Linked DNA regions of Homo sapiens. The protein of the gene in region 1 purifies or fractionates together with the protein of each later gene. This does not show direct contact. Each region holds a gene or a part of one and is shown on either strand. Other genes may lie near its edges. The genes, in order: PHETA2 and NMT2.

The links.
Region 2: the proteins of PHETA2 (region 1) and NMT2 purify together in Homo sapiens (affinity purification with mass spectrometry; one large-scale study listed by BioGRID and IntAct). This does not show direct contact.

Annotation. Positions count from the first base shown.
Region 1 is NC_000022.11:42,076,930-42,079,938, forward strand, and holds the end of PHETA2 (sesquipedalian-2), read left to right. Parts: intron 1-350; 5' UTR 351-364; coding exon 365-1,144; 3' UTR 1,145-2,509; downstream 2,510-3,009. Other genes in the region: SMDT1 (essential MCU regulator, mitochondrial precursor), read left to right, coding at 2,840-3,009. UniProt on the Homo sapiens protein: Plays a role in endocytic trafficking. Required for receptor recycling from endosomes, both to the trans-Golgi network and the plasma membrane.
Region 2 is NC_000010.11:15,113,050-15,116,867, forward strand, and holds part of NMT2 (glycylpeptide N-tetradecanoyltransferase 2), read right to left. Parts: intron 1-3,818.

The DNA.
Region 1 (3,009 bases):
TTTCGATGGGTCTGGGGTCCATTTCAGCTCAGCTGGGGCCTGTTTCTTTGGATTTTAGAAAGCCGTGCCCAGGTCCTGCCATGCCTCCTGTCTGATGCAATCTCGTTATTCTTTTCTCGAAGTCCGCCAGTGTCCAGTTTTTTTTGCATGATCCTCACGACATCCCTTTGAGAGAAAAGGAAGGAAAGACGAGCCCACTTCTCAGGAGACTTTAGGGACCTTAGGGACACAGCAAGCGAGTAGGAGTCCCAGGGCTGGGGTCCAGGTTGCCTCTGGAGCCGGTGCTGTTCCCCAGGAGGGCACGGAACCACCTCCCTCTCTGATCTGCTGCCATCTCTCTTGCCTCACAGTTCCCGTGGGAGCCATGAAGCTGAACGAGAGGAGTGTAGCCCACTATGCACTCAGCGACTCCCCAGCGGACCACATGGGCTTCCTGCGCACCTGGGGGGGCCCAGGGACCCCACCGACCCCCAGTGGCACTGGCCGAAGATGCTGGTTTGTCCTCAAGGGCAACCTGCTATTCTCCTTTGAGAGTCGCGAGGGCCGGGCCCCACTGAGCCTGGTGGTGCTGGAAGGCTGCACAGTGGAACTGGCCGAGGCTCCCGTGCCCGAGGAGTTTGCCTTTGCCATCTGCTTTGATGCCCCTGGAGTGCGCCCACACCTGCTGGCCGCAGAAGGGCCGGCGGCCCAGGAGGCCTGGGTGAAGGTGCTGTCCCGGGCAAGCTTTGGCTACATGCGCCTGGTGGTACGCGAGTTGGAGAGCCAGTTGCAGGACGCACGCCAGAGCCTGGCTTTGCAACGCCGCTCATCCTGGAAGTCTGTTGCCAGCCGCTGTAAGCCCCAGGCTCCTAACCACCGAGCTGCGGGCCTGGAGAATGGCCACTGCCTCTCCAAGGACAGCAGCCCTGTGGGCTTGGTTGAAGAAGCGGGCAGCAGGTCTGCAGGGTGGGGGTTGGCTGAGTGGGAGCTGCAGGGCCCTGCCAGCCTCCTCCTAGGCAAGGGGCAGAGCCCTGTGTCCCCTGAGACCTCCTGCTTCTCTACCCTGCATGACTGGTATGGCCAGGAGATCGTGGAGCTGCGGCAGTGTTGGCAGAAGAGGGCCCAGGGGAGCCACTCAAAATGTGAGGAACAGGATAGGCCCTAAGTCTGGGCCCTTTGAGTCAGGAAACCAGGGCCAGTTCTTTTTCAGGAGTTAAATGTTTACCCATTTCCAAGGTTGCGTTTTGGGAGGGGACATGGGTTCTCTCCTTCCTGCTATTTAGGCATTCTCCAGGTTCGAGATCCACCCGTGTGTCTGGAAGGGACTGCGGGACCATTCCTTCCATCCTCTTTATTTCCTGAGGTCCAGAGAAGGAAGGAGACTTAGCAGCCACAGAGCAAGACCCCAATCTCCTGACTGCACTGGCCTGACTGCCCCCTCCCAGGGGATGTTAATGAAATGAAGGAAGTGGGGAATGTCACCCGAGACTGTCACAGGCTTGCCATACCTTTGGCCTACACACCGGGCTCTAGAGCCATAATTTCCAACCTGGGGAGTCTCCTGTGCACTTAAATCCGAGGTAGGCTGCAGTATCGGCTTGAAGCTCTGACACTGTCAGAGAAAGTGGATTTATTGTGTCATAGGAGTTTCTGGGACCCAGCTCTTCCTGAGAGGGGTGGGAAGATTGGGGATGGGATCCTCACTCAGCAGTCTGGGTAGGGCCCTTTGAGGCAGAGGGTCTTCGGCCAGTGAAGAGAGATTTATTCTGCTCAGAGTGCTGGGGTCCCATCCTTTCTCCCTGGCTGCCCTGTTAACAGATGGTGCTGGACCTTGCCCCGGAAGGGGCTTGTAGCTTTTTTACGTCAACGAAATGCCCTCCTGTACTCTGTCTTCAGCAGCCAACTCCTGGAGCTGCCAAGTGAGGGGTTAAAGAAGAGGTGGGGAGGCAGTGTGGCTCCCTGGGAAAAGTCTGTTGCTTTGGTTCTCAGTCCTGGGTATTCTAGGAGCTTGGACACGGGATTGCGTTTCCTGTGCTAAAATTCTCTCTCCTGGCTGGGCTCCGGTAAACTGAAGCTGCTCGAGAAATCACCTGGGAACTCTCATAGCCGTTTGTCACCCAGGGTGTACTTGCCAGGACCTCTCCTTGCTACTCTTCCCAAAGTCGGGAGGCAAAGCGGCTGGGTCACCAGAGCCTGACCATACTGACGCTCCAGGGGGAAGACGCAGAGGCCGGGAAGAGACACCCCCTCCCAAACACATAAAACTTGCCCCTTCCTAGCCTCGGCTCCCCTCACTGGGGCCTTGGGCAGGACCGACCCGCATCCAACTAGGCCTAAGGGGTAGGCTCTGAGCCTCTTACCCCTAAGAGGCGGAGATGCGCCCAAGGCGGGCGCCCGGCCTGTTCCCCAGCCCTGCCTGGAAGCCCCGCAGCCACTGCATTTTGTTTAAACACAGATAGCACGGGCCTTTCTCTTATTGCTACAGTGTTTTGTACACGGTTAAAACACTAGTAAAGCTTTTTCGTTATTACTCCTTCCGCTCCCTGGGTTTATTTCCACAACCGGCCGCTGAGGCCTGTTCTGACGGCCGGGCGGACCCAAGACCGCGGCCACGCCCAGCAGGACGCGGACTGAGGGAGCCGGGGCTGCGCCGCCACTCTCGTGACGCCACCATGCCGGCCAGTGACAAACACCTCCCTCCCGCCGCCCCAGGAGCCGCCGGCACTGCGCGAGTGGGAGGGCTGGGCTTCTCGTGTACTCCTCAAACTCTCGCGAGGCTTCGGGCGGCTTTCTTCCCGAGGGCGGCACGAGGGCTGGGCGGTGGGGTGCGGGTGCCCGGGTGAGGGGCGGAGCTGGGGGCATGGCGTCCGGAGCGGCTCGCTGGCTAGTATTGGCACCCGTCAGGTCCGGGGCTCTCCGGAGCGGGCCTAGCTTGAGGAAAGATGGCGATGTCTCCGCCGCATGGAGCGGCTCAGGCCGGAGCCTGGTACCGTCGAGGTCAGTCATCGTTACCCGCAGCGGCGCCATTTT
Region 2 (3,818 bases), on another chromosome or scaffold:
CAGAGAACGAAAAGCAGTAAGTCACACTTCTTTCTCGGCAGTCCAATTTGGGGCCCCTTATATTGTGCTGTGTAGAGGCCAAGAAGGGCCTGGAGTTGGGACTTCAGCCTAAGTGCCCATTGGTGATTTGCACAAAGTTCTTAGGAAGCAGAATGTCATGCCTGTAATCCCAGCACTTTGGGAGGATGAGGCGTGTGGATCATGAGGTCAGGAGTTCGAGACCAGCCTGACCAACATGGTGAAACCCCATCTCTACTAAAGATATGAAAACTTAGCCAGGTGTGGTGGCGCACACCTGTAATCCCAGCTACTTGGGAGGCTGAGGCTGGAGAATCGCTTGAACCCCAGAGGCGGAGGTTGCAGTGAGCCAAGATTGTGTCACTGCACTCCAGCCTGGGCGACAGGATGAGACTCAAAAAAAAAAAAAAAAAAAAAAAAAAGAAAGAAAGATAGAAGCAGAATGTCCTAAAAGGAAAGCTTCCCTCAGGCTGACAAATGAGTCAATTCTTTAGACTAAGGGAACAGTGATAAAAGCAGATTCATTGTTTTTGCAGAAATAAAAGCTTTAAGGATTAGAGGGCTGCCTTCTCCAACTAAAAGATACTGTGTACTATCTCACACTGTCTTAGCACACAGAAAGAATTATATCAGGCCTAAGTAAGGTTGGGTAGAGTCTGGAAGCTGTTTGGAAGAGTTCGCAAGCTTGTGAAAGGTCTTACTACTGCACCAAAATATACACATGTGAACAACTGGAGAATTTTGCAGCTATCAAAAATAAGGGATACAATGGATGACATTCATTTCATCATCACTGGCAAAGCTTCCAATACAAGAAATTAGCCAGTATTGTTCGGGTTGTTGTAATTAGCTGTGGTGGCCTTGCTGACTTTTAGAATATGATGTGTTTGAATCGTGCGGCTGAAGAGGCTGGACCACACACATGCCACTGCTAGTATTTCTTTCAGCAGAAAAGGAAATTCCAGAAGGATGTATGCTTTGGTTTTCAAAGGCTTCCGAGTCATTAGACCTTTCTTCAGCCAGCAAGAAACTAAAGGGGTTAATCTACAGTGATTCCCTACTGCTCTATATTAGCAGCTCAGTATTGGAGATGAATTCAACCTTCAGGTTTAATAAGGATTTTAGATTCTTCTAAGAATTTCTCATATCCATCTCATACGCTGAATTACTGCAGGCACCTGCAGAACCTGATTAGGTTCCCCACCCCATTTTCATCATCTGCTTTCAGAAAACTACTTCTTCACATTCATATTGCTGGTAAAATTACTGTTTCCTCTCTTGCTGTTAAAATGACCAGAGAATCACCAACTGTTGGGGAAGAGTGGGATGATCTTTCCATTGTCCCTCACACCCAATCAATTGTAAAGACTGATAAAAAACAAAACAAAACAAAACAAAACAAAAAAACCCCGCTCACAACAAAACCCACCATGGCACCATGTCTAGATGGCTTATAAGCAACTTCTAACAACTTTCAAGGAACAAGTAATCCCTATTATTACATACACTGTTCCAGAGAAAAGAGAGGACAAGCTCTTCAGCTCATTCTAACTTTGGTATCAAGACAGGACAAGGACAGGGTAAGAAGGGGAAATTAATGGCCAACCTCAGTAGTGAGTATAGAAGATCCTAAGTAAAATATTAGCAAACTAGGGCTGGGCATGGTGGCTCATGCCTGTAATCTCAGCACTTGGGGAGGCCAAAGTGGGTGGATTTTCTGAGCTCAGAAGTTCGAGACCAGCCTGGCCAACGTGGTGAAACCCCGTCTCTACTAAAATACAAAACATTAGCAGGGTGTGGTGGCATGCGCCTGTAGTTCCAGCTACACAGGAGGCTGAGCACAAGAATTGCTTGAACCCAAGAGGCGGAGGTTGCAGTGAGCAGAGATTGCACCATTGTACTCCAGCCTGGGTGACAGAGCAAGACACTGTCTCCAAAAAAAATTAAAAAAAAAAATTGGGAAACTAAATCTAAAAACAGAGGTAGTCTCACACAAATGGAAACCAAAAGAATGTGTCACTAGCAGACATACCCTGAGACTGGCTAAAGGAATTTCTTCAAATAGAAAGGAAATAATAAAAGAAGGAATCTTGAAGCATCAGGAAGGAGGGAAGAATAATAGAGTAGAAATTTGGGCTACATATAATAAATTATGCTTCTCCTCAAGCATCATTATTAATCAGTGTTACAAATCATACTTGATGATTAAAACAAAAATCATAATACTGTCTGATATTTAAGACAACAATATTTAAAAATGAAAAAGGTAAAGTGACCTAAATAAAAGTAAGGTGACTCAAAGTAATAAATGTTGTTACCAATCGACTATAAGTCACATATATATATTGTAATACTCACATCAACCATCATAAAAACTATACAAATACACCCAAAGGTACTATAAATAAAACAGTATCCTAAAATATATTCAAGTAATCCACAGCAAGGCAAGAAAAAAGAAACAGAGGAACAAGAACCAGAAGAAACATAAAGAAACCAAATAATCAAATGGTAGACTTAAGCTCTACCATACCAATAATCACCTTTTATGTAAGTGGTCTAAATACACCAATCAAAAGAAACATCAGTAGTGTGGGTAAAGAAACATGACCCAGCTATAGGCTGTTTCCAAGAAACTCACTTCAAATTCAATAACATCAATAGTTTGAAAGTAAAAGGATGGAAAAAGTCCAAACAATTTTTAAAAGCAGGTCTGGTCACAGTAATATACAATAAAGTATACTCCAGAGCAAGGAAAATTATTAGAAAGAGAGGTATTACATTATGATAAAAAGATCAATCCACTAGGGAGACACAAAGACCCTAATATACATGTGAGTATCAAACAAGAGGCCCAGAAGAAATCAAGAAAAACTGACAGTGTTGGAAGGAGAAATAGACAAATCCACAATTACAGCTGGGGACTTCCATGCCCCTCTCATCAAGTGATAGAACTGCTAGACAGAAAATCAGCATGGAAACAGAAGAGCTGAATAACTCAATTAATCAACATGATGCAATTGCCATACAAAGAACACTCCACACAACCGTAGTGGTATACACGTTTCATGCACCCATGGAATATCCATCAAGACAGTCCATATCCCGAGTAATAAAACAAACCTCAAGAGCCTTAAAATAATCAAAACCATACAGTGTGTGTTCTTTAACCATAATTGAATCAAACTAGAAATCTGTAATAGGGAGACAACAGAAAATCTCTAAACACAGCAAAATTGAACAGCACAATTCTAAGTAGGGGTGGGCTAAAGAGGAAGCCTCAAACGAAACCAAAAAATACATAGACGTGAATGACAACGAAGATACAACATACCAAAATACGTCAGAAATAGCTAAAGCAGTGCAGAGAGGGAAACTGATAGAACTAAATGCTTACTAGTAACAGGGAAAGGTCTCAAGTCAGTAAGTTCTTCCCTCAAGGAACTAGAAAAGAAGAGCAAAATAAACCCAAAGCAAGCAGACAGAAGGAAACAATAAACACGAGGGTAGAAATCAATGACACTGAAAACAGGAAGACAACAGGGAATATCCAACAAAAGTCTGGTTCTCTGGGAAACAAATCAATAAAATGATACAAGTCTACCAATATGGACAAAAACAAAGAAAGAGAAGACACGAATCACCAATATCTGGTATGAAAGAAGAGATATCAGTACAGATCCCACAGCCACTAAAAGGATAACAAGGGAATAAAATGAACATTAATTACACTCATACATTCAACAATTTAGAAGAAATGGATGAACTCCTCAAAAACTATTAAAACTCAACCAAGATGA